Homo sapiens: one gene and its partners. The protein of the gene in region 2 purifies or fractionates together with the protein of the main gene of each other region. This does not show direct contact. Each region holds a gene or a part of one and is shown on either strand. Other genes may lie near its edges. The genes, in order: ZFTRAF1, DEGS1 and EIF5B.

Evidence for each region.
Region 1: the proteins of DEGS1 (region 2) and ZFTRAF1 purify together in Homo sapiens (affinity purification with mass spectrometry; 2 studies listed by BioGRID and IntAct, with this or other methods). This does not show direct contact.
Region 3: the proteins of DEGS1 (region 2) and EIF5B purify together in Homo sapiens (affinity purification with mass spectrometry; 2 studies listed by BioGRID and IntAct, with this or other methods). This does not show direct contact.

The regions. Positions count from the first base shown.
Region 1 is NC_000008.11:144,446,708-144,455,573, forward strand, and holds the end of ZFTRAF1 (zinc finger TRAF-type-containing protein 1), read right to left. Parts: intron 6,754-8,866; coding exon 6,515-6,753; intron 5,864-6,514; coding exon 5,652-5,863; coding exon of another isoform or gene 5,473-5,651; exon of another isoform or gene 4,418-5,472; intron 4,064-4,417; coding exon 3,672-4,063; 3' UTR 2,875-3,671; downstream 1-2,874. Other genes in the region: TMEM276-ZFTRAF1 (uncharacterized protein LOC157542 isoform 1 precursor), read right to left, coding at 3,672-4,063, 5,652-5,863, 6,515-6,753.
Region 2 is NC_000001.11:224,183,694-224,195,769, forward strand, and holds the end of DEGS1 (sphingolipid delta(4)-desaturase DES1), read left to right. Parts: exon of another isoform or gene 1-138; intron 139-5,883; coding exon 5,884-6,626; intron 6,627-7,398; coding exon of another isoform or gene 7,399-7,440; exon of another isoform or gene 7,441-7,463; intron 7,464-8,638; coding exon 8,639-8,785; 3' UTR 8,786-9,748; downstream 9,749-12,076. UniProt on the Homo sapiens protein: Has sphingolipid-delta-4-desaturase activity. Converts D-erythro-sphinganine to D-erythro-sphingosine (E-sphing-4-enine). Catalyzes the equilibrium isomerization of retinols.
Region 3 is NC_000002.12:99,358,504-99,370,579, reverse strand, and holds part of EIF5B (eukaryotic translation initiation factor 5B), read right to left. Parts: intron 10,345-12,076; coding exon 10,219-10,344; intron 10,116-10,218; coding exon 10,031-10,115; intron 9,433-10,030; coding exon 8,760-9,432; intron 6,936-8,759; coding exon 6,718-6,935; intron 6,310-6,717; coding exon 6,159-6,309; intron 2,088-6,158; coding exon 1,989-2,087; intron 1,189-1,988; coding exon 1,099-1,188; intron 1-1,098. UniProt on the Homo sapiens protein: Plays a role in translation initiation.

The DNA of each region.
Region 1 (8,866 bases), on a different chromosome or scaffold from region 2:
TGAACAGCTGAAGACAGGGTGGCTTGGACACCAGAGGGGCTCCCTGAGCTACCTGGACAACGATTAAGTATCCCCTTCAGCCCCAGGGTCCACAGGACAGCCCAGCTCCTGGAAGCCGAATTCCCCTTCAGAGACAACCCAATTTCTCTCTTTTTTTTTTTTTTTTTTCCGAGACAGAATTTTGTTCTTGTTGCCCAGGCTGGGGCACAATGGCGTGATTCTGGCTCACTGCAACCGCCTTCTCTCAGGTTCAAGTGATTCTCCTGCCTCAGCCTCTTGAGTAGCTGGGATTACAGATGCCCACCACCACGCCCAGCTAATTTTTGTATTTTTGTAGAGACAGGGTTTCACCATGTTGGTTAGGCTGGTCTCGAACTCCCAACCTCAGGTCATCCACCCGCCTCAGCCTCCCAAAGTGCTGGGATCACAGGCGTGAGCCACCATGCCCGGCTGACAACCCAATTTCTCTGTGCCTGTTTCCCCAGTAACCAGACAAGGTACACACGTCAGGCAGTGCTGTGCAGGGCTGCAGGCCTGGTGCAGATTGCCACAGGCTGAGGGCAGCAGGGGAGGCCAGCAGAGCCCAGAAGGCCCAGCTGTGTGTCTGTCTTCTGGTAAGGAAACACAGACAAAACATGGGTTGGAATATTTTTTTAAACTACAGTTGTTACATACAGAAAATATCCAAAGAGAACGCAGACCACAAAAGTGACACATAAGTCATTTCCAACAATGGTAAAAACACTTCTTGCTCTGCTCTTTAAAAAATTATTATTTTTTTGAGACGGAATCTCGCTTTGTCACCCAGGCTGCAGTGCAGTGGCACAATCTCAGCTCACTGAAACCTCTGCCTCCTGGGTTCAAGCGATTCTCCTGCCTCAGCCTCCTGAGTAGCTGGGATTACAGGCGCGCGCCACCACGCCCAGCTAATTTTTGTATTTTTAGTAGAGATGGGGTTTCACCATGTTGGTCAGGCTGGTCTCAAACTCCTAACCTCAGGTGATCCGCCCGCCTCGGCCTCCCAAAGTGCTGGGATTATAGGCGTGACCCACCGTGCCTGGCCTATTTTTATAAATGAGGGATGTGGTGCTCACCAGGGGGTGGGGATGAGACAAGGGAGGGAGAAGGGTGGGGCCTGGCTTAGGCTATGCCCCCCACATCTGCGGAGTGTGGACCCCCACGCCCCCATCCTCAGAGAAGACAAAGGAGCAGGTCGGGACGTCAAGATGTCTCAGGGTCTTGGACACAAGCCGTGTGTTTGGCGGTCCTGTCATGTGTGGCCCACGTTGGCAACGCCACGGGAAGCCCGTGCTCCAGTTCCCGGTGGCCGAGGACCCACCGTGGTCCTCCCAGGTGCCTGGCTCCCCCAGGCCATAAGGCTCAGCTGCTGCATGTCATGGTCACAGGGCAGATGCCTGCTGAGTACGCTGGGCCGCACTTGCAGACTTGAGGCACCCACATCCCACATCTGGAAGGGCCTTGTGTGGACACTGCCCTTGCCCTCAGGCCAGCCCCTCCCATCCTGAACTCCCACAGGGCTGGTTGCCCCGGGACTGCGGAGGTGGGGCTGCAGGAGCTCAACCAGCCCCGGGTCTCCTTTCTCCACGTGGCCCCCCAACCTGCAGAGACGTCTGCCTCCAGGCCCCTGGCGTCCCAGCCTGGCTGTCCCCATGAAGAACAAGCCTCCCACCTTCCCCACCCCAGAGACATGCTGGGGCCTGTCCCTCCGTTGAGTCAGTCTCTCACACACACAACCAAACAGGTGACAGGGCAAGCCCGCCCCACCCGTGCGCCCCACACCATCACCTTGGACCCAGAAACACTACGCTAGAGGGCGTCGGGCTTCCAAAGAGATGTAGAGCCATAGCCCAACCCTCTGCGCCTGTGGGTGGAGCATGAGGGAGGACAGCCCCAAAGCGCAGCCCTGAGGTGCCCAAGTTCACCCTGGTGGTGCCAGAGTCAGAGGCAGCTGCTCCCAAGGATGTGCTGGGGGCTGGGTGGGGTCTTTCTTTGTGGTCAGCAGAAAACCAAACATGGGGCCTTCCCATGCCCTTGGTGGCCAGGCCACATCAGCTCTGCAGGAGATAAGGCTCCGGCAGCGAGGCACTCCCAGCAGGCCACACGCCCTGGCCTGGGAGTAGAAACCCACAGCATTCTCAGAAACAGCTCCAGAAAGTTTCAGCCCGTGAGGGGCAGTGCGGCGGCCCGGGAGGGAAGAGCTGACTGGGAGGGTCATGCTGGGCTGTGCCATGGTCAGCCGCCCGGATGATGGCGCTTACATTCTGCCCCCAGTTCCTCTCCATTTCTCAGCCCTCGACCCGTGACCAGCAAAGCACAGGACAATGTGGGCCAGGCCCCAGCAGCCAGTGGGGGCGGGTTGGGCTGCTGTGAGGCAAGTTAATGCACCTGACTGGAGCAGAGGAAACCAGTTCTTTGGTATTGAAGCAACAAAAAGCTATCACGGAAGAGCCACATCTCCTAAGCAAAGGTGGGGGCGTCAAGCTGTATCCTTCCCAGTAGCCCTGGGAGTCCCAGGGGAAGAAAGGACCAGGGATTACCCCTCCAGGCAGGGTTCCTTCCCATCCTGTTAGGCCAGCCCTGCTCAGCCACCACGGGGCACATCAGGGGGCGGCCAGGGTGAGGATGGGAAGGGCCCACCTCCTCCAGGTGAGAAGCTGGGCTGCCCAACCTCTGACCTCTGCAGCGAGCCCTGAATGCAGGGCCAGCAGCAGGACCCCGAGAGCAGCATGGGGGACACACCTCAGACTCTCACCCAGCCAGGCGCCCAAGCACTGACCCAAGCTTTCCACACAGCCTGGGGACGCTGGGCCCTCAAGGCTGAATCTACAGTAAATAGACTCTTTCTCACTAAAATTGTGTAACTTATCCAAGAGCCTGCAAGGAGTTTAATCTTTTTCCTGGGAAGAGACAATTTCACCCTGCTTTCGGAAAATGCCTGCTGAGCCCTGGTGGCTGAGTCCTGTCTCCCTGGGAGCGGCCGGTTGGCCAGGGCAGCCCCGACCCTACCTGGATCTTCCTGCCCAAGCCTCAGTCTCAAGACCCCATGACAGAGTGTAGGGGGAGGCAGTGTCTCTGAGTCTTTCCTCGGGGGACGTGTGCGGGCACACAGATGGGGGCGGGGCAGGCTCTGACCCCCAGGCCAAACCAAAGCCCCCACGCTGTCCATTCACAGCCATGCCTTCCCCTCGAACAAAACAGAAAGTACGAAACAAGGCTGCCTTTTAATTGCTATCAGATATTCGGATATCCCGTCTGATGTCAGCAAGGCCCCCGCGCCCCGCCGGAACCCGCAGGGATGGAGCAGCACCGCCGCCTGACTGCACAGAAGGGCTGGGGCAGGGTCGCTGTGCCTCTCGGCCTCCTTGCTGCCACCGTCTCTGAGCCTCGGGGCGCCTGGTGCACCGTCTCCTCTTCGGGTCAGCCCAGCCTCTGGCGGCCCTCGGAAGGAGGGGAGGCAGGGGTCGGGGGGGTGAGCCGGAGGCGGGGGCCCCGTCGCGCACGCATGCAGACTTGCCCTGTGTTGGCTTCGTTTGTTCTCCTCCTTTGCTAAAGTGATCAGATAGTCCTGTGAAGCAGCTGCCAGCCAGGTGGACAGGGCAGCGGTGCTGGGATGCCGCCCGTGGGCTCCTCGGACATCCTGAGGCCCCGCCCTACTTCTGTATCTGGAACAGGAAGAGCCGCAGGTTGATGTTCTTGGCAGCCAGCAGCTTGTTGCACTCCACGGAGTCAATGATGGGCAGTGGCACGTAGTCCGTCTCGTTGCTCTCGTTGGTGAAGACAAAGTGGTAGATGACGGGGCTGATCCTCACGTCGTCGTAGGGGCCCTTGAGCAGCAGGAAGGAGCACTCCAGCGGTGCCGTGACCTTGCTCTTGAGGAGGAGCTGGAAGGAGAGCGTACGCTTGCAGGACAGGTTGGGGTTACGCTCCGAGTCGTTGACTCGAGCCTTCAGGACCCACGTCTGGTTCAGCACTGTGAACCTGGGCGTCTCATAGTACAGGCGCGTGATGAAGTCGTCTGTGCGGTACGGCCGGAACTGGACCTCTGTGGAGACAGACAGGGCCGGAAAGAGCCGGCTGTTAGTGTGGGCAGGGCTGGGCAGCAACGCCTTCCCTGACCAGGCCGAGGGCAGGCTCAGCCGGGGAGGAAGGCAACTTACCCGGACACCGGGCTCTGCTTGTCACAAGCAAGCCAAACGCAACTATGGCAAATGGAGGTGCACACAAGCTTTGAGGGGAACAACCACAAACAGAATCAACATGGATTAGCTGGAGAGTCCAGAGGCTGCACGTGTCAGGCCACACCCCAGGCGTGCCCGACCCACGCTGGCCTCCCTCACCGCCCCGAGCCCCGGGTGTCCCCCAGGGCGGGGTAAGCAGACACACAGACAGGATGCGGTTCCGAGAACAAGTGCACTTTATTGGTTCTGATACAGAGGAGCTGCCAGAAAAGCCAGCAGGCGGCTGCGGCACCCAGCCCTGCCCGAGGGGAGCACCAGGTCTGCAGGCACCGGGCCTGATCCGGAGCTGCCAATCAGCAGGCAGCCCTGCCTGCACAGTCCTCTTGGGCAGCCCACAGCCTGTGGCCGGCAAGTCCCTCCGTGGAGGCGTGGGTTCCCAGGTGGCCAGTCTTTCCTGCGCGAATGGGGCTTCTCACCTGGCCACGGCCACAGCCACAGTGCCCCAGCCTGCCTAGACTCCACGAGGCCCCGGTATCTCCAGGACAGCTAAGGCTGCTACTCACCACGGGCTGTGGCTGCCGCAGAGACCCCAGGCCCTCGGCCTCTCTGGCCTGCTCGGGCCCACATCCCGCTGGGCACAGTCCAGGCAGCAGGGCGGGACTGGCTGCCCACGACCACCCTGCTTGCGCCACGCCTGGTGCTCTGAGCTGGCCGCCTGGTGTGGGCTGAGAGTAGAGGGATGGAGCTTCCTCCAGTGGCCCCAGCATCAACAGGTGCTTCTCGCTGTCCTCTGGGCCAGGCTCTGGCCTGGCTCCTGCTCCCCGACACGTTCAAAGGCGGTGGCAGCGGCCCAGAGAGCCACGAGATCCAGTGTGCCTGCGCACGCATCCAGCCTGGGCGTCTGTGGGTGTCCACTCCCGGTTCTACAGTTTGAGTCGGGCACCCTCAGCTTGTTGTGGAGCCCTCTCCCTGAATGGCTTCGTGCCAGCCTTGAGAGGCCCATGGCCGGGGCAGTGACTGCCTGCAGGTAGGACCTCACTCGGCAGGGTGCTCTTCTTGCCCCAGGGTCCGAGGGGCAGGCCCCTAGCTCCCAGGCCCCCTGAGACCTGCCCACTTTCTGGTTAGACCCTGACTGTCTTGAGGCTCTGGAGCCCCACAGTGAGATGCCACCTTGCAGGGATGGTGAAGCCAGGGTGGCGAGGACAGGTGGGCGGGGCTGCTGTGAGAGCCACACAGGTGTGCACCTGGGGTCTGCCTCGGCCCCTCCTTCCACTCAGTCTCCGGCCTGTCTTCTCGACCGAGGTGTCCACCTGTCCACCGGGAGCTTGTCCAGAGCCCGGCTGTCCGGCGCTGTCAGTGCCCAGTGCCCAGAGCCTGCTGCCCCCAGACTCCTGGCTGCCAGCCCCCCAACCCACACCTGTGTGGCATGCAGCAGGCGGCGGGGCGCCTCACCTGTGTAGCCAATCTTCTCGAAGCTGAGCAGGCTGAAGATGCTGTTGTACAGCTGCATCTCCTTGCGGTGGCTCTGGTCCATCCCATCCAGGATCTCCATCAGCTCACTGCCTGTCTTGGTCGGGTGGGCGCACGCAGCCTCGTGCACCGTCAGCTCATGGAAGGGGCCGTGCCATGGGCAGCCGATGCGTTTGTACTTGCACTGGGTTACCCTGGGGGAGGCAGGTACATCACTCACAGACTGAGCCCCGAACAGGAGGCTGCAACAAGCTGTCCTCCCATATGGCTTCCATCCAGCTAAGAACCCCTTCCTGCAGGACACACGTAACTGTGAGCCCACCCCCCAGGATGAGGTCAGAGTGGCAGCATGTGGAGAGAAAGGAGACAGGCAGAAAAAGGGAGAGAGAGGGGAAGGAAGAGTGCAAGCTTGAGCCTGTGTGCCCCGCACCATGGCGTGGTTCTCTCCTCTGTTTGGCAGTGGTGGTCCTGCACAGCCTCACTGCAGGAGACTTGGTGGCTGCCTCCACTGGATGGGTAGCCATGGGCAGTGTACCCTCACACCAAGCTCCCTGAGGTCCTGCGTTGGACACGCTGTCCTGGGCCCTTCAAGGGGCTCCCCCACAGCCACAAAGAGCACTGGAAGGCTAGGCTCATGTCCGGATAACAACTGGGTGCAAAACCCACCTGTCCCCATCCTGTGCAGGCACCCTCCCACAGGGCCGTCACTGGGCTACACAGGTGGTCCCCAAGGCCCAGACAGCAGAGACAGCCAGACCACCCTGCACAGGGCCCTGCTGCACCAGGGTGGGCTCCCAGCAGTCCTGGGCCCCGCCTGTAAGGCTAAGCCCCTGACCCTCAGTTACCTGTCCTGGCATTCCTCTTTCTGGTGCCTCTCCAGGAGGGAGCGGGGAAACTGGCGCAGGCAGAAGCCACACTCTGAAGGCAGCTCGCTCACGGCTTTCTCCACGGCCAGGTTCCGGCAGCAGAGGCTCTTACTGATCTCACAACGACAATTGGGGCACGTGGCCTGCTCCTCCTTCAGCCGGGCATCTGCTAGTAGGTGGATAAAACAGCCAGCGCACATCAAGTGACCATTAGTACACTGCGAAGAAGGAAAGGGAGACGAAGCTCACAGACCTGCGGGCTCATGCTCGCACACACCCGCCCATGCCCATCAGCTCCAGCCAGGTGTCCTGAGGGACTCCAGCTGGTGCAGAGGGGCGCACGTGCCTGTCCCGAGTCGTGCTGGAGTGTGGTGAACACTGCGAGCTGCTCAGGAGAAACAGGCAGAGCCAGCTTGGGTTCTTGCAGAGATTAGAGGTCCTAAAAGCAAGGCCTCATCAGCTCACAGAGGTGACAGCTCGCCCTGGCAGTGACGGGTTCAGCCACCTGGGGCCGAGGGTCACGCTTTTCCCTTAGGGACCAGCGACTGCCCTGACCCCCCTACAGGTCCAGAGTTTGGGAGCCCTCCAGGAACACTGGGCTCTTGGCCATCACTGTCAGGTGGGGAGCGGATGCAGCTCCCACACTGGGGCAGGCATGCTCTCTGGGCCTTCAGAAAGGCCATTTATCCTGGGTTGAGAGGACTTGGCTCAGGGTGAGCCCAGGTGAGAGGAGGCAGCTGCCCCCTCGTCCAGGGAGGTTGGCTACCTGCAGAGACCTCCTCAGAGCTGGGAGGCAGGAGCCAAGCTGGCCCAGGACAAGGACAAGGGCAGGTAGGCACACAGGGAGTGCCTGGGGAGCAGAAATGGGGGCTCTGAGTGGGTGCCGAGCCTGCTGGGGTAACCGGGGCTGGCAGGAGCAGGGCACCTCCCGCTGGGCTCCCTGCCTGTGTGGGCTCCCAGCACGCCCAGTGGCCTATCCTGGCTCTCACTCCCTCAACATAAGCCTCGAGCGTCCACTTGGTGCCACTGAGAGACACATGGCAAGCTGCGGTCCCAGCCCGTGGGGGCTCACAGCATGGGAGGTGGGAAGCCCAGACCAGAACCAAGAGGTCCAAGAACAAACAAAGCCTTTTGTACCTGAGCAGACACAGTTCCCACAGCCCTGGCTGGAGTGGGGTGTGTGGGCTGAGGCATTCCAGGGCCAGCCAGGAGTGACAGGGATGTGATGTGCCTCCCACCCAAAGACTCTTAGAGCTCGCTGAGGGGAGCAGTCAGCAGAGTTGCTCCTGTCCTGATGCCTCTCCAGCAGCCGGCCCAGGCTTGCCAGCCATGCAAACCTCCAGAAAGCCACTGGGCTACAGGCTTCCTTTGGGACCTGGGACCCTCTTGAGAATGGGATGTGGTGCAGCAGAGCAGCCTGCCCAGGCCCAGCCTCTCTACAAGGTGTGTGTCAGGGAGGGGACACTCACAGGGCCCTGCCTGGTGGCGCTGGGAGGCCGGCCCTGCCTGGTGGTGCTGGGAGGCCAGCCCTGCACACGTGGGGCCCTGGGAAGTCTGAGCTGCCATCCTACTGCTTCAGCTGCCTGTGCACCCCAAGCTAAGGAGCTGTCAGACGCTGGGGCTGTTCACTCAGCACCTGTGGACTAGGCCTAAGGCCTGCTGAGTCAAAGGACCTACATGTGGAGAACCGACAGTGAGGACAAAGCCCTCTTTCATGGAATCCACATCCACATGAACACCACCCGTTACCTGCATTCAATCCTCAAGTTCTCAGTTTGGTTAAAAATTAAAATTACAGGCGGTGGCTCATGCCTGTAATCCCAGCACTTTGGAAGGCCGAGGCAGGCAGGTCACCTGAGGTTAGGAGTTCATGACCAGCCTGGCCAACATGGTGAAACCCCATCTCTACTAAAAATACAAAAATTAGCCATGCATGGTGGCGAGCGCCTGTAATCTCAGCTTCTCAGGAGGCTGAGGCAGGAGAATGGCTCGAACCCGGGAGGCGGAGGTTGCAGTGAGCCGAAATGGTGCCACTACACTCCAGCCTGGGAGACAGAGTGAGACTCTATCTCATGAATACATAAATAAATAAAAATTAAAACATACACAGTTGCCTGAGGCAGGGAGTGAGACTGGCTCTGACTGGGTTGGGGACAAGCTGAGACCTGCCCCCAGGAGAAGGTGTGAAAATCCGCCAGCCAAGTCCAGGGGTCAGTGGTGGGTGGACTACAGGCAGGAGGGGGCACAGATGCTATTGAAGCAGCTGTCCTGTGGGAGGCACAGACCAAGGGCCCACACCACTGTCCTCTCACAGCCCCCCGCCCCCCGGAG
Region 2 (12,076 bases):
GGCCCACGCCGGCCGGTTGGGGCGAAGGGTGTCCCCGGCTGTGCCAGCCTTGAGTAGATCTTTTCGCTAGAAGATTCCTGTGCCCTCAGGTGGGCGCCCTTTCCTCTCACCACTCCCTCTCCTCCGGAGCGGGCCGAGGTGAGCGGGTGCCGGCCTTGGGGCTGCCTGAGTGCTAGGCAGGGTGTGGTCCTGGGCATCCTTGGGCCTACCAGCGAGCCCTGCTCAGGGTGTCGGGCGCCGGCGGGCAGTACTGGCGGGGGCGGCCGCAGTCCCGGCCTTGGGCCCGTTAAGGGGGCCGGCGTCCCTCCATATGCCCCCCGGGGCTTCTCGGACTTGATGGGCCCTGGTCGGTTCACGCCGCTTGTCCCATTGATCCTCACGACAAGCCTGGGACGTAAGAACGGCGGATTCGTAGGCATTTTTCATCCATCTCGGTTTTGTGGATGAAAAGACTGAAAATGGAAGACTTGCCAAATAAGGAAAATATGTGGCGTGGCCTGCTGGTCCCCTGACAGCTAATTGAGAGGCCTTAACTCTCCAGAGGATTCGGGCCTTCTGTGTTACATAGAGAATGCTCATCTCTCCCAGGCTACTCCTAATATGCTAGGGATTGTGTGGAATGCTTTACAAACATTACCCAATTTCATCCTCTTGGTAATTCTACTTGGTTGGTATTATCGCTGTTTTAAAAAATGAAATAAGAACGCGTGACTAAATGCTAGGGGGATTCTAATGCGCATTCGGTTGCCTCTTCCAGAGCACGTGTTTGTTTTTTGTTTGTTTGTTTTTTGAGACTGCACGTGTTTGTTTTTTGTTTGTTTGTTTGTTTGTTTTTTGAGACTGAGTCTCACTCTGTTGCTCATGCTGGAGTGCAGTGGCGCGATCTCCACTCGCTGCAACCTCTGCCTCCTGGGTTCAAGCGATTCTTCTGTCTCAGCCTCCCGAGTAGCTGGGATTACAGGTTCCCACCACTACGCCTGGCTAATGTTTGTATCTTTTTTAGTTAGAGACGGGGTTTCACCATGTTGGCCAGGCTTATCTCGAACTCCTGACCTCAGGTGATCCGCCCGCCTTGGCCTCCCGAAGTTTTGGGATTACAGGCGTGAACCACCGTGCCCGGCCAGAGCACGAGCTTTTTAACCTCTGTTGAGGAAACGGGGACCGGTCACGGTAGCTCAGGCCTGTAATCCTAGCACTTCGGGAGGCTGAGGCGGGAGGATCGCTTCAGCCCAGAAGTTTGAGACCATCCTGAGTAACATAGTGAGAGCCCCCCGTTTACACACACACACACACACACACACACACACACACACTTTTTTTAAATTGAGGAAACGGTGAGTTGAACATGAGCAATTATTCCTTATATATAGTATTTCCTTAGTTTTTCTTCTCAACATTCATTTGCCCAGTGAAAAGAAAAAGCAAGTAGCTGGGACCACAAGCGCACACCACCATGCCTGGTTGATTTTTCTATTTTTTGTAGAGATGGGTTTCTCCGTGTTGCCCAGGCTGGTCTTGAACTCCTGGGCTCAAGCAATCTGTCCGCTTTGGCCTCCCAAAGTGCTGGGATTTTAAAGGCGTAAGCCACTGCACCCGGTAACTTTGGGTTCTTGAATTCCCTTCCTCCTCTTCTTCCTCCTCCCCTACACTCCATTAGAGAAAGGGTCTTGCTTTGTTGCCCAAGCTGGAGTGCGGTGGTTGTTCACAGGCATGATGATCACTGCAGCCTGGGCTCCAGTGGTCCGCATACCTCAGCCTGCCAGTAGCAATTTGTTTGGCACATCACTTACACATACTTGATATGAGATAGCATGATACTTTTTTGAGACGGAGCCGCACTCTGTCACCCAGGCTGGAGTGCAGTGGCCCAGTCTCGGCTCACTGCAACCTCTCCCTCCTGGGTTCAAGCAGTTCTGCCTGCCCCAGTCTCCCGAGTACCTGGGATTACAGACGCCCGCCACCATACCTGGCTAAGTTTTTCTATTTTTATTTTTAGTAGAGACAGGGTTTTGCCACATTGGCCAGGCTGGTCTCAGATGATGCGCCTGCCATGGCCTCCCAAAGTCCTGGGATTACAGGCGTGAGCCACCCTGCCAGGCCACATATGATATATTTTATCAATGCCTTATCTACATGTTACATAGGAATAATCTAGCGTCCTACCTGTGTAAAAACCAACTCTGGAATACTGAAACTGAGCTACTTAATATTCTGAAAATCAGGACGGGTGTGGTGGCTTTTTTTTGCCTGTAATCCGAGCACTTTGAGAAGCTGAGGCAAGAAGATCGCTTGAGGCCAGTTCAGAACAGCCCCATCTGCACGAGAAATTAAAAAATTAGCTAGGCGTGCATGCCTGTCCCGCTACTCAGAAGGCTGAGGCGAGAGGAACACTTGAACTCAGGAGTTCGAGGCCAACCTGGGCAACATGGCAAAACCCCATCTCTACCAAAAAAAAAAAAATTTAATTAGCGGGACATGGTGGCATGTGCCTGTGGTCCCAGCTACACAGAAGGCTGAGGTGGGAGGATTGCTTGAGCTGGGGAGGTAGAGGCTGCAGTGAGCCGTGATTGCCCCACCGCGTTCCAGCCTGGGCAACAGAGTGAGACTGTCTCAAGAAAAAGAGATGAAGGAAGTGAGAAGGTGCTGATTGATACTTACCTCACACTGAGCCTTTTTTCCCCCCACAGACTTATCACTGAACCATTTCACTGGGAAAGTAAAAGGACCACATATTTCTTGGCCGGGCATGGTGGCTCACGCCTGTAATCCCAGCACTTTAGGAGGCTAAGGTGGGCGGATCATGAGGTCAGGAGATCGAGACCATCCTGGCTAACACGGTGAAACCCCATCTCTACTAAAAATACAAAAAATTAGCCGGGCGTGGCGGCAGCCACCTGTAGTCCCAACTACTCAGGAGGCCGAGGCAGGAGAATGGCGTGAACCCGGGAGGCAGAGCTTGCAGTGAGCTGAGATGGTGCCACTGCACTCCAGCCTGGGCGACAGAGTGAGCCTCCGTCTCAAAAAAAAAAAAAAAAAAAAAAGAAGGACTACATATTTCTCAATGAAAATACAGTGTACAATGTTTTCCATGCAGGTGTAAATACTAACTCATGTTCTGTTTCAGGGTGGGAGATGGAATAACCTGTAGAAAGAATCTTTAGATTTGTTTAAATTATACACAAATGATAAGAGATCTTTCTGAAAGTATTGACTTTTTGGCGGGGGAGGGAAGGGGCCTGATAGAACAACCAACAATTGTACACTTTAAGTTTACATTTAGAGTTCACATTAAAAGTTCATTTACAAGGCATCTGTTTGAAATTCGTGAGGATGAGCTGGGCTGGGTGGCTCATGGCTGTAATCCCAGCCCTTGGGTGGCTGAGGTGGACAGGTCACCTGAGGTCAGGAGTTCAAGACCAGTCTGGCCAACATGGTGAAACCCCGTCTCTACTAAAAATACAAAAATTAGCTGGGTGTGGTGGTGGGCGCCTGTAATCCCAGCTACTGGGAAGGCTGAGGCAGGAGAATTGCTTGAACCCAGGAGGCAGAGGGTGCAGTGAGCTGAGATCTCACCATTGCACTCCAGCCTGGGCAACAGAGCGAGACTCCGTCTCAAAAAAAAAAAAGAATAAATCACAAGAAATGGTTCCTTCACTGTTATACTTTAACATGATACAGCTTTTTAATGTTTTATTTTTTGAGAGAGAGTCTCACTGTGTTGCCCAGGCTGGAGTGCAGTGGTGTGATCATAAATTCTTGGGCTCAAGTGATGCTCCCGCTTCAGCATCCTAAGTAGCTGGGACTACAGGCTTGTGCCACCTCACCTGGCTAATTTTTTTTATTTTTGGTAGAAATAGAATCTGTTTGCCCAGGCTGGTCTTGAACACTGGGCCTCAGGCAGTCTTTGTGCCTCAGCCTCCCAAAGTGCTGGATTAATGGTGTGAGCCACAGCACCTGGCCAATAGCTTTATTGAGATTATAATTCAACTATCATGATTTATTCATTTAAAGTGTACAGTTCAGTATTTTTTAGTATATTCACAGAGTTGTGCAGCTGTCACCACCATATAACCTTAGAACATTTCATCATCACCAAAAGAAACCCTATACTCATTAGCAGTCCCTCATATCCCCTGCTTCTACCTAGGTAACCACTAATCTACTTTGTGGCCTATAGATTTGCTTATTCTGGACATTTCATATACATGAAATCATAAAATACCTGATCTTTTATGATTGGCTTTTACTTAGCATAATATAAATTTTTTTTTTTTTTTAATTTGTAGAGACAGGGTCCTGTTATGTTGCCCAGGCTGATCTTGAATTCCTGGGCTCAAGTGATCCTCCTGCCTTGGCCTCTCAGAGTGCTGGCATTATAGGTGTGAGCCACTGCACCCAGCCATTAGCATAATATTTTAGCTGGGCACAGTGGCATGCTCCTGTAGTCCCAGCTACTAGGGTGACTGAGGCAGGAGGATCACTTGAGTCCAGGAGTTTGAGGCTGTAGTGAGCTATGATGGCATCACTGTACTTCAGCCTGAGTGACAGAGGTAGACCCTGTCTCTAAATATTTTAAGGTTCATTAAAATAATATATTTTCAATAAAATAATATTTCAATAAAATAATATTTTAAGGTTCATTCATGTTATAGCATATGTCAGTGTATGATTCCTTTTTCTGGCTGAATAATATTCCTTTGTATGGATATACCAGGTGTTTAACATTTTGAGGAACTGCTGTACAGTTTTCCAAAGCAGCTGCACCATTTTATATTCCCACTAGCAAAGTATGAGGGTTCTAATTTCTCCACATCCTTGTTTTTACCTACCTTTTTTTATTATAGTCATCCTAGTGAGTGTGAGGTGGTATCTATGGTTTCAGTTTGCACTTTCCTAATGACTAACGGTGTTGAGCCTCTTTCATGTGTTTCTTGACTGTTTCCGTATCTTTTGGAGAAAAGTGGGTTCAGATCCTTTGCCCATTTTTTAATTGGATTATTAGTTGTAAGAGTTCTTCATATATTCTGGATATAGGTCCCTTATGAGATACATGATTTGCAAACATAACCCCGCTTCTGTGGATTGTCTTTTTACTTTCTTGACAGTATCATGTGCAACAGAAAGTTTTTGATGCTGTCCGATTTCTCTGTTTTCTTTTGTCACTTGTACTTGTTATAGTATCTAAGAAACCACAAAGGCCATGAAGATTTATTTCTATGTTTTCTTATCAGAGTTTTATAATTTTCTTATAAATTTGGGTCTGTGATCTGTTTTGAGTTCATTTTTGTGTATGGTGTAAGGTAGGGGTCTGAATCCATTCTTTTGCCTGTTGATAACAAGTCGGTCTAGCACCATTTGTTGAAAGGACTGTTCTTTCCCTGATTATATTGGTAGCCTGTAGTATTGGTTTTTATATACTATTACAATTTTGGGAAAATTCAGTACAGAATTACTTGGAGCATGTTGATTTGTCTGAGAAAACTGTGAATACCAGTTTCATGATTTTAGGGTAACTACAAAATGTATATTATATTCTATCCTTTGTCAGATGTGTTAATTTAATCGTTTTATATAAGGTAAGAATGCTGTACCTCTGTCTAAACACAGAAATAACATGTATTTTAATATAAAGAATGTGGAACTTCTAAACTTTGAGGCTAATTTTTCCTGCATAAATTCTCAAATTATTGTGACATGATATTTCATAACTTTACTAGTAGAATCCTTCCCTGTGTTATTAAATATCCACTAAAGTCTCTAGTAAAGGGAATATGATTTACAGAACAAATTTAATGTGTTAGTTTAATTGGTGTTAATTTAATTATAATTGGTGAACTATTACATACTTTTCTTAGTTCCTGTTTTTTTGTTTTTTCTTTACAGCAAAGTATCCAGAGATAAAGTCCTTGATGAAACCTGATCCCAATTTGATATGGATTATAATTATGATGGTTCTCACCCAGTTGGGTGCATTTTACATAGTAAAAGACTTGGACTGGAAATGGGTCATATTTGGGGCCTATGCGTTTGGCAGTTGCATTAACCACTCAATGACTCTGGCTATTCATGAGATTGCCCACAATGCTGCCTTTGGCAACTGCAAAGCAATGTGGAATCGCTGGTTTGGAATGTTTGCTAATCTTCCTATTGGGATTCCATATTCAATTTCCTTTAAGAGGTATCACATGGATCATCATCGGTACCTTGGAGCTGATGGCGTCGATGTAGATATTCCTACCGATTTTGAGGGCTGGTTCTTCTGTACCGCTTTCAGAAAGTTTATATGGGTTATTCTTCAGCCTCTCTTTTATGCCTTTCGACCTCTGTTCATCAACCCCAAACCAATTACGTATCTGGAAGTTATCAATACCGTGGCACAGGTCACTTTTGACATTTTAATTTATTACTTTTTGGGAATTAAATCCTTAGTCTACATGTTGGCAGCATCTTTACTTGGCCTGGGTTTGCACCCAATTTCTGGACATTTTATAGCTGAGCATTACATGTTCTTAAAGGGTCATGAAACTTACTCATATTATGGGCCTCTGAATTTACTTACCTTCAATGTGGGTTATCATAATGAACATCATGATTTCCCCAACATTCCTGGAAAAAGTCTTCCACTGGTAAGTAAAGGATTTGATACATATTCTAATTTTGTTTTTTCATTTGTTTGTTTTTTGAGACGGTGTCTCACTCAGTCGCCCAGGCTGGCGGGCAGTGGCACGATCTCGGCTCACTGTAACCTCCACCTCCCGGGTTCAAACGATTCTCATGCCTCAGTCTCCCAAGTAGTTGGGATTACAGGCGCATGCTACCACGCCCAGCTAATTTTTGTATTTTTAGTAGAGATGGGGTTTTGCCATGTTGGCCAGGCTAGTATTTTGTCAGTCCAAGCAGTTCATTAAAAAAAAAAAAAACAAAAAGAGCAAGAATATAAATACTGCATCTTCCAGCCTACTTTTACAAAGGGTTCACTCTTGGGTCCTTAAGCTTAGTGGTTACACTTAGGATTTATTTTTAATTTTATTTTTTAACTTTATGTTTTTTTAGAGACAGGGTCTTGCCCTGTCACCTAGTCTAGAGTGCAGTGGTACGATAGCTCACTGCAGCCTCAACTCCTGGGTCAAGCGATCCTCCCACCTCAGCCTCCTGAGTAGGCAGGATTATAGGCACGTGCCACCATGCCTGGCTAATTTTTTATTTTTTGTAGAGGCAGGGTCTTGCTGTGTTGCTCAGGCTGGTCTCAAACTCCTGGATTCAAGTGATCCTCCTGCCTCAGCCTCCCAAGTAGCTAGGACTACAGCCACATGCTATGACAGGCTGATTTTTTAAATAATTTCTTTTAATCCTCCAAATGGTTTGTTAAAATTTTTAACATTTTTAACATTTTTATAGAGCTGGAGTTTCCTGGATGGGTGCAGTGGCTCACACCTGTAATCCCAGCACTTTGGGAGGCCTAGGTGAGTGGATCATCTGAGGTCAGGAGTTCGAGACCAGCCTGGCCAACATAGTGAAAGCCTGTCTCTACTAAAAATACAAAAAACTTAGCTGGGCATGGTGGCGGGTACCTATAGTCCCAGCTACTCGGGAGGCTGAGGCGGGAGAATCGTTTGAACTCGGGCAGTGGAGGTTGCAGTGAGCCGAGATTGTGCCACTGCACTCCAGCCTGGGTGACAGAGCGAAACTCCGTCTCAAAAAAAAAAAAAGAGAGAGATGGGTTTCCCTGTGTTGCCCAGGCTGGTCTCAAATTCCTGGGCTCAAGTGATTCTCTTGCCTTCCAGAATGATGCTGGGATTATACATACGAACCACTGTGCCCATCCAGATAGTTTTTTAACTTGAGATGAAAAGACATTTTTAACTTGAGATGGCAGAATTGCACATTTGATAAGTGCTTTTTTTTTTTTTTTTTTTTTTTTGAGATGGAGTCTCTCTCTCACCCAGGCTGGAGTGCAGTGGCACAATCTCGGCTCACTGCAACCTCCGCCTCCCGAGTTCAAGCAATTCTCCTATCTCAGCCTCCTGAGTTGCTGGGACTACAGGCGCACGCCACCATGTCTGGCTAATTTTTTTGTATTTTTAGTAGAGATGGGGTTTCACCATATTGGTTAGGCTGGTCTCGAACTCCTGACCTCAGGTGATCCACCCGCCTCGGCTTCCCAAAGTCCTGGGATTACAGGTATGAGCCACCGCACCCAGCCAAGTGCTTAATTTCTATCTAATTAGCATGCCACAATTTATTAGTATTTGTAAGTTCCTGGATGGCAGGGATCAGATGTTGCCTTTATATTCTATGGCGTCATCCATGCAGTACATTCTTTAATAATATCAAGTTAATCTAATTGTATGTATTTGTTGTTAATTTTACAAATAAGCCAGATATTTAGTCCCTTGGAATGTGATGGGAGAGAGACCTAGAGGGTCGAGTGTATTCAACTGCTGCTGAAATGTAGACTGCTTTTTGTTTAGAATTCCCACAGCTGCTGCTGCTGCTGCTTTTTTTTTTTTTTAAGAGAGAGGAGGGAGGCAGGTCTCATGGTTTCCCTTCTCAGTGTTTGTGTCAACCATTCATCAGTCATCTTTGAAAGAACCTAGTAACACTCATTTTTCATCTTGCTGTATTTTTTCCCTTCTAGGTGAGGAAAATAGCAGCTGAATACTATGACAACCTCCCTCACTACAATTCCTGGATAAAAGTACTGTATGATTTTGTGATGGATGATACAATAAGTCCCTACTCAAGAATGAAGAGGCACCAAAAAGGAGAGATGGTGCTGGAGTAAATATCATTAGTGCCAAAGGGATTCTTCTCCAAAACTTTAGATGATAAAATGGAATTTTTGCATTATTAAACTTGAGACCAGTGATGCTCAGAAGCTCCCCTGGCACAATTTCAGAGTAAGAGCTCGGTGATACCAAGAAGTGAATCTGGCTTTTAAACAGTCAGCCTGACTCTGTACTGCTCAGTTTCACTCACAGGAAACTTGTGACTTGTGTATTATCGTCATTGAGGATGTTTCACTCATGTCTGTCATTTTATAAGCATATCATTTAAAAAGCTTCTAAAAAGCTATTTCGCCAGGCACGGTGGCTCATGCCTATAATCCCAGCACTTTGGGAGGCCAAGGTGGGTGGATCACCTGAGGTCAGGAGTTCGAGACCAGCCTGGCCAACACGGTGAAACCCCATCTCTACTAAAAATGCAAAAATTAGCCGGGCGTGGCGGCACATGCCTGTAATCCCAGCTACATGGGAGGCTGAGGTGGGAGAATTGCTTGAACCCAGGAGGCGGAGGCAGAGGCTGCAGTGACCCAAGATTGTGCCACTGCACTCCACCCTGGGCAACAGAGCAAGACCCCATCTCAAAAATAAATAAATATATATAAAAAATAAAAAGCTATTTCTAGTTTATTTCACTATAAAGTTTTGCTTTATTAAAAAGCTAATAAACAGCTATTAATCACAGTGTATTAGTATTTGTTACATTTTTGTATTTCACTATCTTTATACTATATAATATGGTAACTTGGGTACCGGGGGAACTTTAAAATTTCATCTCAAAAATAATTTTTAAAAAGCCTGAGGTATGATATAGCATAAAAGATTGAGATGAAAATATATTTCCCTGTAAGCTGAATTACTCATTTAAAAATTTTAACTTCTATATGGGACCCGAATTAGACACTGCTGAATCCTGTACAGCCTTACTCATAAATAAAGTACTTACTGAATTTCCACCATTCAAATTCATTTTTCAGGTGTGTTGACTCTCACATTAGAAACTGCTCAACTGATAAAGACTTTCATGTTATTTCACTGCAGTGGGAACTGGCTGTGGTCTGATGGTAGATCGTTGGTCTCAAGTAGCTGGTAGCATGGGCTGTTGTTATGTCAGCAGTCTTGCTTACCTCAAATATGTCACTTGGATACGTTTAGTGTAATATGGTGAATTATTTTAAAAATACATCAGCAGCTGGGTGTGGTGGTTCACACCTGTAATTCCATGCTTCGGAAAGCTGAGGCAGGAGGATCGCTTGAGACCAGGAGTTTGAGACCAGCCTGGGCAACATAGTGAGACCCCATCTTTTTTTATTTTTTATTTTTTGAAATGGAGTCTTGCTCTGTTGTCCAGGCTGGAGTGCAGTGGCGCAATCTTGCCTCACCACAACCTCTGCCTCCTGGGTTCAAGCGACTTTCCTGCCTCAGCTTCCTGAGTAACTGGGATCACAGGCGTGCACAGCCATGCCCAGCTAATTTTTTTTTTTTTTTTTTTTTTTTTGTATTTTTAGTAGAGACAGGTTTTCACTATGTTGGCCAGGCTGGTCTCAAACTCCTGATCTCAGGTGATCTGCCTGCCTTGGCCTCCCAAAGTTCTGGGATTACAGGCATGAGCCGCTGTGTCTGGCCCCCATCTTTTCAAAAAATAAGAGTGGTGTGGTGGTGTGCACCTGTAGTCCCAGCTACTTGGGAGGCTGAGATTGAGACTACAATGAGCCATGATCGCACTACTACGCTCCAGCTTGGGTGACAAACACCCTCTAAAAAAAAAAAAAAGTTGGCTACATTGCAGTTTCGTAAAGAATAAAACAACACCCAGAATGCTGAGGGCGGGGTGAGGAGTAGAATCCTCTGTGGGACTGCCAGGCCTGTCTCACAGACCTCATTTCATCCCCAAAATACTTTGCTTTCCCTTCCTGACCCCCTTGCCTAGGAAAATTCCTAGTATCTTCTAATCTGTTACTCAAAGAACAATCAAAGAGTGACAATAGAACCAAGTTTACAATTCAGATTTTACTCAGTCACTAAAGTATCTGCAAAACATACCCCTGGATTTGATGCTAGATCATAGAGATCATGTACTCCCATCAAGTCTATAGAACTCTGGCCAATGGCACCGGGCGTGGTGGCTGTAATACCAGTACTTTGGGAGGCTGAGGCAGGTGGATCACGAGGTTAGGAGTTCAAGACTAGCCTGACCAATATGGTGAAACCCTGTCTCTACTAAAAAAAATACAAAATTATCTGGGCATGGTGGCATGTGCCTGTAGTCCTGGCTACTCGGGAAGCTGAGGCAGGAGAATCGCTTGAACCCAGGAGGCAAAGGTTGCGTGAGCCGAGATCACGCCCTGCACTCCAGTCTGGGCGACAGAGCAAGACAACGTCTCCAAAAAAAAAAAAAAGGCCAGGCGCGGTGCCTCACGCCTGTAATCCCAGCACTTTGGGAGGCCGAGGTGGGCGGATCACGAGGTCAGGAGATCAAGACCATCCTGGCCAATACGGTGAAACCCCATCTCTAGTAAAAAATACAAAAAATTAGCCAGGCGTAGTGGCCGGCGCCTGTAGTCCCAGCTACTTGGGAGGCTGAGGCAGGAGAATGGCGGGAACCCAGGAGGCGGAGCTTGCAGTCAGCCGAGATCGAGCCACTGCACTCCAGCCGGGGCGACAAAGTGAGACTACGTCTCAAAAAAAAAAAACAACAACCAAAAGAACTTTAGCCAATGGCTGCAGCTGCCATGTAAATGCTGAAAACCTCCAAATCTATCACTTCAGACCTCTCACTACCTGCTGGATGCACAGAGTGGGTTGTCATCCCTCTCCAAAACTCCAGTCTCCACTTACATAACCACTTCTTTCCTGAATGGAAGTTTCAGTCTTCGTAGCAGGCATCCCGATTATTCTGGCTCCCATCTGCCAACTCGATCCATTCTTTAAGAGAGCTACCAATCTGGGCAGTAAGAAGGCTGGGCCCCATAACCTCTAAAGAATAACTCCAAACAAAATTATCCGGGCCTGGTGTTGTGTGCATCTGTGGTCCTAAGCTACTCAGGAGGCTGAGGTAGGAGTTTCGCTTCTTTTTTTCTTTTTTTTTTGAGATGGAGTCCTGCTCTGTCGCCCAGGCTGGAGTGCAGTGGCTCGATCTGGCTCACTGCAAGCTCCGCCTCCCGCGTTCACGCCATTCTCCTGCCTCAGCCTCCCGAGTAGCTGGGACTACAGGCGACCACCACCACGCCCGGCTAATTTGTATTTTTAGTAGAGACGGGGTTTCACCGTGTTAGCCAGGATGGTCTCAATCT
Region 3 (12,076 bases), on a different chromosome or scaffold from region 2:
TACGATCTAAAATAGTGGACTGCTATTAAGCATATCAATCTAAATTTCTCTAATCTCGTCATATCAGTGCTAGGCTGAGGTCTACCCAGGTGAGATGATCCTATTCGCTCAGAAGAGAAAAGAGAAAAAGAAGGAAAGGAACTATCAATAATATAATTCACCAATGTAAATCAGGCTTAGTATTCTGTAAAGGCTTTTCCCATTCCTGATCCTATCTTTAATCGCTGGGGATTCTCTTGAATACCAAACATACATTTAGGCAGCCCCAGCTCTCCCATCAATATCTAGTCGTAAGAGTTAGAACAATGTTTTTTTTTTAAAACCAGAGATTTTTCCCCAACTCCTCAACATATACACAGATACCCCACAATGAGTAAGTTGAATTCTCTGATTATTGTAAATAGAAGCCGACCTTTAGGAAGGTCTAAAAATGCCAATTTTTATGGTTCTTAAAAAGTTCTAGTTAAAAATCCTTCCAATTTGCTTCTGAAGCATTAAATGAAGACCTTCAGATCTTTTTTTGAGATTTCTGACTCATAAATAAAAGCATCAGAGAAAATCCAAAACCTACTATCCTTTCTTCCTTTTTTTTTGAGATGGACTGTTGCTCTGTTGCCCAGGCTGGAGTGCAATGGTGCAACCTAGGCTCACTGAAATCTCCCTGCAACCTCTGCCTCCCAGGTTCAAGCAATTCTCCTGCCTCAGCCTCCCAAGTAGCTGGGATTACAGGCACCCGCCACCACCCCCGGCTAATTTTTTGTATTTTTAGTAGAGATGGAGTTTCACCGTGTTAGCCAGGATGGTCTTGATCTTCTGATCTCGTGATCCATCTGCCTCACCCTCCCAAAGTGTATCCTTTCTACAAAACATTTTCTAACACTGCTGAAAAGAACACAACTGATTCAAGTCTCACTTGGATACTTATTCAAAGTAGAAATGAAAAGAAATAGAAAAGAAAGAACTATGAAGAAAGAGGGCCATCCAGCCAGATACTTATTTGGTTCTCCCCAATTATTTATAATAACTAAGACAACTTATGACACACCAACACTATTTAATAAGAATTCACTAATTAAATAATCAGATAACACTACCCGCCTGGTTCAACAGGAGGTGGTGTCTCTTCCTTTTCTGGTACTCCTTGTTCCATAACTTCTACAGCAGCACATAATTCCATTGATTCAGACACTGAAAAAGGGGCAGAAACCAAGATAATATTTTTTTTGGTGTATAATTTCTGTTAAGATACTCCATTAAGTACTGAATAAAAAACAGTAGTGTAAACCTATTTATTTTTTATTTTTTTGAAATGGAGTCTCGCTCTGTCACCCAGGCTGGAGTGCAGTGGTACAATCTCAGCTCACTGCAACCTCCACCTCCCGGGTTCAAGCAATTCTCCCTGCCTCAGCCTGCCAAGTAGCTGGGATTACAGGCACCTGCCACTATGACAGGCTAATTTTCTTATTTTCAGTAGAGGCAGGGTTTCATCATGTTGGCCAGGCTGGTCTTGGACTCCTGACCTCAGGTGATCCGCCCGCCTCAGCCTCCCAGCGTGCTGGGATTACAGGCGTGAGCCACTGTACCCAGCCTGTGCAAACCTATTTCTTCAAGTTTAGAAAATGTTTAAATATAGTCATATGTTTTACAGGAAACTACTCTTTCTGCTCAATAAATAAAATACAAAAATCACAGAAGGCTAAGAAGGAAACCAAGAAAAGATAAGAATGGTAGTTTTACTTCTCAGAGTTAACAACAGTTACAATATTCATAGGGTAGAACCCAGATTTTTCAAAGTAAAATACTTTTTCCATTAGCTTGTCATTTGAATCAAGTGAGAATAATGGCATTAATAAGAAATAAGTTTAGAAAATAAGTTTCAATATGCATTTCGGATTTTTTCCTTTCTTCTTTACAGACACTGTTTTGAAGATTGTGGGGGAAAGGCAAACAACATATTTCCTAAATTAGAGGCTATTTTGTATACAAACCTTCTTTACTTTCTAGCTGCTGTGGTATTTTTTTCCTCTTTTTATCTTCATAAATTGGCCTCTTCTTTGGCAAAGAGTCTTTTGATGGCACTTCAACACCTGAGGGATAAAAATGAAAAACTTCAGGCTTATACTACTTGCATGTCACCTGAGAAGTACTATTTAAAGGATAGCATTTCATTCACCACAGAGACACATACCCTAAAATATGAAAGGATATTCATGGAAAAACTTGTATCTTTTACATATAAGGTATTTTAAAATTTACATACAGTAAAAATCCTCGTTTCACATACAGTGAGAGTTTTGATACGTGTATCACCATCACAATGAAGATGCAGAAAAGCTCCATCACTCCATCATCCTGTGCTGCTCCATGTAATCAAACCCTCCTTACCTTCTTAGCCTCTGGTAACCACTGATCTGTTCTCCAACCAAAAGATTTGCTTTTTCTAAAATGTCACATAAATGGAATCTTACGGTCTGGCCTCTATCATCATAATGGATTTGAGAGTCACTCACTCTGCTGCACATGTCAATACTTCGTTTACTTTCATTGTTGGGCAGCATTCCATTGTATGGATATATCAGTTTGCTTATCCATTCAACAGCTGAAGGACATTTGAGTTGTTTCTGGTTTTTTGCAATTATGAATAAAGCAGGTATGAACATTTTCAGACAGGTTTCTGTGTGAACATTTCTCTTGGGCAAATATTTTGTAGTGTGAATGATGAAACATAAGGTAAATATGACCTTAATTTTTATAAAGACACTGCCAGTTGTTTTCCAAAGTGGCTATACTATCTTGCATTCCCACCACTAATGCAGAAGAGTTTTGGCCAGGCGCAATGGCTCACGCCTGTAATCCCAGCACTTTGGGAAGCCGAGGTGGGTGGATCACCTGAGGTCAGGAGTCCAGGACCATCCTGGCCAACATGGTGAAACCCCATCTCTACTAAAAATACAAAAAATTGTATTATATAAAATATATATATATTGTGGTGGTGGGTGCCTATAATCCCAGCTACTCAGGAGGCTGAGGCAGGAGAATCACTTGAACCTGGGAGGCAGAGGTTGCAGTGGGCTGAGATTGCGCCACTGCAATCCAGTCTGGACAATAGCGAAACTCTGTCTCAAAAAAAGAGAGAAAAAAAAAAAAAGAGTTTCAACTGCTCTGAATGTGGTAAAGGTTTCTCTTTTTTTAGAACATTCTTTTCAGATGCGTATAGCTTTCTGGTGAAAGTGTCTGTTGATACCTTTTGCCCATTTTTAAATGAACTTATTGGTTTTCTTATAGTTGAATTTTGAGAGGTCTTTATATATTTTGGATGTTAATTCTTTCTCAGATATCTGACTTGGAGGTACTGTCTTGGAATTCTCTTGACAGTGTCTTTTGCAGAGAAAAGTTCTGAACTGGTCTTTCTCAAAATGTATCTTTTTTCCTTTTATGGTTTAGAGTCCTATCTAAGCACTCTGCCTAACACAAGATATCCTCCTATGTTTTCCTCTGAAAGTATTATTGTATATTTTACATTTACATATGATACCCATTTGGGTCAATTTTTATACAGTGGGAATTAAAACTGGTTTTGGGTTTTTCTGCATACAGATGTCCAATTGTTCTAGTACCACTTGCTACAAATACTGTATTTTATCCACTGAATTACCTTTCACCTATATACTAACCATGTATAGACTATTTATCTGTTTGTCTATCTTTCTGGCAATATCACACTGTATTAATTCCTATAGCTTTATACTAAGTCTTGAAATCAGGTATTCTAAGTTTGTTCTCCTTTTTCAAACATATTTTGGCCATTCTAACTCTCTGGTCTCTTCATATCCATTTTAGAACTAGTTGACAGATAGCTACAAAATACCATGCTGTGATTTTGACTGGGATTGAACTGAATCTACAGATTACTGGATTACTGACTCAGTCTCTCACTATGGGCAGAAGCCTTAGAATAAAGACAACAGAAATTGTATACCATGGGATTTTGAATGAAGTCACTAATAAAGGAAAATGACTAAAAATGTTATCTCTAACGTAGGAATGTATATGGATGTGTGTTGTGCATGTACTGAAGAATGGCTAGAATGGTAAAACCATAGCTATGACTGGTAAGACGAATACATTAAACAAACCAAAGAAAGAGGATAAAGCCAGCTGAGAATGCAGAGATCATCACTTTAAGTTTTCCTTGCCTAGCAGCCTACACCTACTAAGATGAAAAGCATGGGCCTGAGGGGAAACTGTAGGCTGGATTACCTGAAGGGTGGTCCCAATAACACCCTAGACTTAATCAACTGACTACTGCTCTAGTCTCAGACTCTCAAATAAGCTGCTGTACTTGGAATCAACACCAAGACTTGTATGTGTTTAGACATTCCATTCACTTTGCAAACTGAGACATAACAATCAAGTTCTTGAAGAAGCTCTTTGCCTGAAATGAGTTTATTACAAATTATTGATAAAGTACTCATATATGTGTGTGTGTGTATATGCTTAGTAGTCACAGGCTAAAGGATGACTGAAAAGTTAACCTGCTGCACATTTCAGAGCAATTATATGAAGACACCTGCAGATGCCTACACTCTCTGAGAGTACATTTTTAGCTCAATGAATAAGTTTTACAATATTCTAGGTAATAAATGTGGTAAGCAGCTGTCTTTCAAACATACGATGAAACAACACTGTAGGATCTTTTAATGAGATGACTCACATGAGTGGGCTGTGGGTGGGGGGGAACCTTGAATGTCAAGCTAAGGAATTTGGATTCTTATTAGTAGACAATAGGGAACTAATAAGATGGTAAACACTGGACAACACTATGAAGAGTAAGAGACCAGCGTCAGGGATGCCACTTGAGAGAGCATCTCTTACAAGCCTAATGCTAAAGACTGATGCTAAAAGTCCACCATTCTACACTGTAATTTCCATAACTACAAGTCTAACTGCTCCTTAAAACAGCATTTTTGAGACTGGCAAATTACTCCCTGCTTGGTCCCATCTGAATTTCTTCATGGGTGCTTTTAGCCTCTCCAATAGTCACCAATGAAATCTGATGTATGAATGCTAACTATATTCAAGTTTGTACCTAATTTCATTTAAAATTTTACAAAAGCTATATTCTCCATTAAGAATAAAACTTTCTAAAATCTAAGTACTGGGTTTCTTCACATCTAATGTTCCTAGCTGAACATATGCGTAAGAAAAAGTTGCACAGACCAGCTTAAATTTCAGCTCTGTGGCCTTGGGTAAGCTGTTTACACTCTGAACCACCATTTCTTCATCTATATGATGGAAGTAAAAATAGCTATAAGATTTTTTTATGAGGGAAAAATAGACAATGTCAAAGACATTGTAGCATCAGTTACACACTAAGCACACAATAAATGGTAGCTATTACTGTAATTATAGCATAAACACCAAAATGACTGTAATATAAAAATCTAGGGAATATAGGAGCAGGAAATTTAAGAGAGGTCCCAATATATTCTTCTCATTGGAGCAAAGACACTATTTTAAATCACCTTACCTTTCAAAAAAGTAATAAATTATATGCCCAGTTGTGATCTCTAAACACTATTACCCTCTAAAAGGAACAAAAGCTCTTTGGATAAACAACCGATTCCAGGTCTCAGCCCATGCAAGATGAACCTGGGATATCTTGTTGCATCAGAAAGTAAGGAAAGGGTTAAAAAAAAATGGTCATGAATACTTTTTCACCGTGGTCATGTGGGCAAACTAATATGCTGTCTGGGAATCACTGTATTTCTTTTTTATTTTTTGGGATTCACTTTAAAACATGCTAGGATAAAAAGTAGATGGAGAGGTACAAAACAAGAATGTCAAATGGTCCTAATTGTTGAAGCTGGCTGATAGGTACACAGGGACTCATTCTATTATTATCACTATTCTTGTTTGTGGGAGGATAACTTATTTAGACATACTATCATTTACATATAAATTTTTATCCTCATGTAGATGTCATCTTCCTAAACAATGAAATGACATCACCTATTCCTTACGTTTTACTGAACTTTTTCACAGATTTTTCATAGGAACTGTCCTGATGCAAATTCCATTCTCCTTCTGAACATTAAGGGATATAACTGCATGTGCAGAGCTCTCTGACCATTCAGTTAATGAAGAGTACCACTCACCCTGAGCTTGTAGCAGTTTAAGAGTAGCTTCGGCTCTGGCTCTGGCTTCTCTCTGGGATTTAGTTAAAAGTTTCCCTTCTTTTTTCAAGCGTTCTTTTCTTTCTTTTTCTTTTTGCTTTTTCCTTTCTCTTTTTTCTTGTTCCAATCGTTCCTATAAAAGAGTACATGTCAGACAAAACCTGTATTCATTTAATGAACTATAAAATTCAAATGTAAACAATCCAAACTTCAAATAAATCTCTTGAGACACATGCAAAGTATTATGTTAGGAGATTCCAAATCAAAGTATTTTAAATGTTATACATGATTATTAATTAATATCACATCAGATTATTGGCAATGATACATAAGCAACTTATGTATCGAGCAATCTGTTCTTGAGAAAATAAAGATAAGATGTGCTGTACCTCTTCATCTTATTATTTGTATCGGAACAATAATATAACTGAATTACCATGCAACTATGAAATTTTCAGAATTAGAAGAGTAAAGATATTTTACAGAGAATAGATTTTAAGTTAAACACAATATCAATGTTACCAACTTCATGAAAACATACCTCTTCTTTACGCTTGGCTTCTAATTCTTCAAGCCGTTTTATACGTTCTTCCTCTTCTCTCTTCTGTCTTTCTTCTTCCTCTTTAAGCTTAGCCAGAGCTTCTTGCATAGCTTTAACAGTGGCTTTGCTAGGTCCTTTTTTCTTCTCTTTCTCTTTTTCTTCCTTTTCTCCTTTCTTTTTCTTCTTATCTTTCTTCTTTTTGTCTCCTTCATTGTCATCTACCAAAAAGAATAAAGGCAAAGCATTGAAATGAAAAAACAATTCCCTGTGGTGATGACGAGCAAAACCCAACCACAATTCAAGGACCATAATGGGCCAAGGCCGATGCCAGCAGCAGGCTAAGTTCTACAGGCATCAAGGCATCCTGAGCACTTTGGTAACTAGAATAGCTCAGAATAACTCACAGATGGCCTCCTGAGAAGTCTGCAATACTGATGTTGGTCTCAGATGTCCTGAGGAATACAGTAAGACAGAAGGATACTGTCAGCAGCAAAAGGGCAATCCTGTACCTAATGTATCTCTAAATCCATGGTACCTGAGTGGCTGGTGTCCAACAGATGCTTATATGAAGTTCTAACAATCAGAATGAACTAACACCCACGTAAGTTCTGTAGCTAATTTCACTTCTACAAGATGGAGTTAATGAGAATGATGTCCACTTTAGGGGGTATTAGTAGGATAAAATACAAAAATATAGGTAGTTATACTCCAAGAACTCTAAAGAATTAAAAGCTATGAAGGTACTTTCATGGTGTTCCTCCTCGAATATATCCAGATAATAAATATGCTAGCATTTAAAAAAGTTGCTGGGCACGGTGGCTCACACCTGTAATCCCAACACTTTGGGAGGCTGAGGTGCATGGATCACCTGAGGTCAGGAGTTCGAGACCAGCCTGGCGAACATGACGAAACCCCATCTCTACTAAAAATACAAAAATTAGCCGGGCATGGTGGCGGGCTCCTGTAATCCCAGCTACTTGGGAGGCTGAGACAGGAGAATCACTCGAACCTGTAAAGAGGAGGTTGCAGTGAGCTGAGATCGTGTCATTGCACTCCAGCCTAGGCAACAAGAGTGAAATTCCGTCTCAAAAAAAAAAGTTGTGTCAATTTTCCCATTAAAAGTTTTCCAGTCAAAAGAAAAACTACTGCTTTTGTTGGTTTTTTGAGACAGAGTCTCAGTCTGTTGCCCAGGCTGGAGTGCAGTGGTGCGATCTCCGCTCACTGCAAGCTCCGCCTCCTGGGTTCACGCCATTCTCCTGCCTCAGCCTCCCGAGTAGCTGGGACTACAGGCGCCCGCCACCATGCCCGGCTAATTATTGTATTTTTAGTAGAGATGGGGTTTCACCATGTTAGCCAGGATGGTCTATATCTCCTGACCTCGTGATCTGCCTCAGCCTCCCAAAGTGCTGGGATTATAGGCGTGAACCACCGCGCCCAGCCCAAAAACTACTGTTTTAAGAATATAGTATGGCCATGCAAACCATCTGATCTTTAGCTATTTTCATTCTAAATAAGAGGAAGAAATTAGCTAGAACTTTTATTTTATAATTGGTTGTTAAAAAAATGGCTCATTATTGCTTAAAAGACACTAATTTTAGCATGTTGAGTTTTAAGTGAAGCAGAAAATATTAGCAACTTCATGAAAACATTTCTTTGTGAATTTCATAAATTGAACTAGGTTTTTAAAGACAGGAAAGAATTCAAATATTATCTGACACTGAGTTATCAGAAAGGAAGAATAAATTTTTCATTAAGTAACTTCTATAGCCTTTATCAACAGCAAAAAAAATAGTTTTCATAATGCAATTCTATAAAAATTCCAGTCTGTACATAAATAATCTGAAAGATATTTATACTATATATGTAAAGAATTAACAATGCAAATCAAGTCAAATACTTAGACGTAATTTTTTAGATGGCTCCTTACAATCAAGTGTCTTTATACCCATGGACAAATAACAAAACGACCTTGGGGCACAATGATTACAACTTATACTGTGAATCAAAAGCCTTTTGCTCTTTCCTCTAAAGTATTAACCAACCTTCTGCAGCTGTGGGAGTCTCTGCTTTCTCTTCAGAGGCAGGAATTACTCCAGTATCAACAGTCACTTTGGATTTTACAGTTTCTTCTTCAAATTTCCTTTGAGATTCCTTTTGTTTACTCTGATCCTTTTTACCTGTTTCTAACTCTTCTTTTTCTTTCAGCTTCCGCAGTTTCGCTTTTTCTTCATCTCGCTTTTTTCTCTCGCGCTCCTTCTTTTCTGCCTTCTTTTGGGCCACTGTCTTAATTTTGAAGGAGGCGTCATCATCTTCATTCCCACTTTCTATGTTAGGACCTGGCTTGTTTTTCTGATTTTTTTTCTGTCCTTTTCTAGATTGCAAAAATTCATCTGATTCATCACCACTTTCACCAGAAGAATTTATTCTTGAACGCTCTTTAATTTTTTTACTGTTATCCTCATCCTCCTCTGACCCATCCCACTTCTTATTTGATTTTTGAGCTTTCCCTTTAGCTTTTTTAGGAAGTTTGTTAAAATCATCATCATCATCACTCCCAGAGTACATTTCCACTTTCGGTTTTGCAGTCTTTTTTGATTTTGAATCTTTATCTTCCAATTCTTCGCTATCATTATCATCAAAACTCTGTTTTTTGCCCTTCTGTCCTTTCTTTTTTTTATCTTTTGAGGTGAATTCCTCTTCATTGTTTTCTGTTGGCTAAAAAATTTCCATTGTTAGAAAAAATTAACAGAATTATAATTGAGACCAGAGTCATGTGCTTCATTAAGTAAACATTTTTTAAAAATCTCAAAATGATTTCAAAATCTTTTTCAAAGTCTTTTTCACAGGAATATAAAATTCAAACAAGCAAGAGAGGTTGGCCTTGGCCTCAGACACATCTCGCATCATTGTAAATTGCAGAATCCAGGGGCTCTTGAAACAGGCACTAGTCACCACCCATTTACTAACTTTACAAAGCCTAAGGGACAAGTTGAAAGAAGAAAAAATATCTATGATTTTCCCATTACTCTGAGGCTTATCCAAATTCGAAGGATGAAAAAGAAACAACAGAGAAAACTGAAGATGGAACGAGTGATTACATCACAACTCCAAATGTACCAATTTTATGAACAATCAACATACCACAAAATACCTTTACATTCCTATTTTTCCCTTTGACATCAGATTTCATAGAAGCTTTTAAATAACATATTGTACACTGCTCAAAAGTTTCCAAATGTAGCTCCCCAAACCAACATTAAGAAGAAAGAATAGAATACGAAATACGAATAGGTAACAAAGGTCTGTCTTTCACCTTCACTGCAACAGTTTCTCTGTCAGCTTTGATGCCTTGAGCTTCCAAAGACAATTCTTCCAGTTCTTTCAGGATATCATCTTCACTAGAAAAGGATTAAAATACATTGTGAAGCACTGGTATAGTTTTTATTAAGTGAATCCAGTACCAAAACAAATAAAAATCAAATATATTTAAAATATACTTACTCAAAGTCCTGCTTTTTTTTCTCTTTTTTCTTTTTCCCTTTTGACTTTTGAGGCTCCTGTTCTTTGGCAGCACCAGCTCCTTCTATTTCTGCAGCCAAGGCATCAAGATCAATGTCATCCTTGGTGCTTAAATGAAAACAAAAACATCCTAAATGCTACTTAAAAGCAAAATAATCATTCATTTATATAGATTTTATCATTTTAACCTTTTTCATGCATTAGCAGCACAATGAGAAAAATCATTTGGCAAGTTCTTTCATTACAACACAAGTTACATCTACTTATCAGCCTCCCTACATCTGCTTCAGTGAAGTTTCTGGATTACACTCAAATAAGGAACAGATAATGAAAAGCTCCAGAAAAAAATCAGGGTAATCAAGAAAAGGAAATTAACTTTTACAGATACCAAAGGTTTTTTGTGCGTCTGAATGAAGTTATTTATAAAATGGGAGATCTTAAAACATAAAACAAGTCTTATTTCTCGACGATCAATAACAACACCTAAATATTTGGATCCCTGTGCATTTTTACTTGGAATAGCAGAAATTTCAGAGTTGGAAGGAAGTTTAGAGATCAGTCACCTAGCCTATTATCTCATTTTACCAATGGGAAAACTAAAATGCACAAGGATTGAATGTCCTGAGAAAAACATAACCACACATTCAAATCTAAATGAATTAGGAATGATTCACTAAATAAAATACTTAACCAAAAATCCAGAACTAAACCTGCTTGCTCCTGGTTTCATTTCTGGATCCATCCAACAATGTCGTCACCTACCAACTTACTTGGAGTAAACCAAATTAAGTTCCAGCTAAAACCTACAGAAAATGAAGGCAGTCCAGTCTAAAATGTCCAAGTAGCAAAGGCAGATGAATCCAAATGAATGGCACAGTAAGAAAACAACTCATGTAATGTGGCCTTTATAATGGACACCTTGTAAGAGATGCTTTAGTTCAGTAAAGAAAATTTCTTTTTTTTTTTCCTTTTTTTGAGACGGACTCTCACTCTGTCGCCTAGGCTGGAGTGCAGTGGCGTGATCTCGGCTCACTGCAACCTCCACCTCCTGGGTTCAAGCGATTCTCCTGCCTCAGCCTCCCGAGTAGCTGGGACTACAGGAGCCCGCCACCATGCCCGGTTCATTTTTTTTTTTTTGTATTTTAAGTAGAGACGGGGTTTCACCATATTGGCCAGGCTGGTCTCAAACTCCTGACCTTGTGATCAGCCACCCTCGGCCTCCCAAAGTGCTGGGATTACAGGCGTGAGCCACTGCTCCCGGTCTCAGTAAAGAAAATTTCTAAAGAGAAGTAACTTTCAACCATATTATAAATATAATTAAAAGATTATATGACAAGACATTGAGGATATAGAATTTAGCCTTAAGGCGCTTAATAGGGAAGACAGCAAACCAGTAAACCCCAAATTGCAAAATGTTAAATGCCTTGAAGTAAAAGAACTTAATGCTTTTATAAATAGTTGGCCAGAATTGAAATGTGCTCCTTTTCTTCCTACATTTTAGATAATTTGACACTGATCTGCTGCAGTGGTGGTGACTTCCTACAGTACCAAATCCAGAATGGGAAAGTCAGAGGCACCTTATTCTTAGTAAAAGGGGTACACATACCAGACACAGTAAGTACAAAAGCCTAAAGGCAACAAGGTGTGTTATGCCTCAAGAGGGCTCACAAAAGGCATCTGAACCACCCAAGAAATGTTTGAGCATTATGTATTTATTGACCCCACCCAAGATAGAGGGAACCAGAAACTGAGGGGGAAGCCAGGCAGTATATTTTTAGCAACAATATTTCCAGGTGATTGTGTACCAGATCTGAACACTGTCATTCTTCTTCCTTTACAG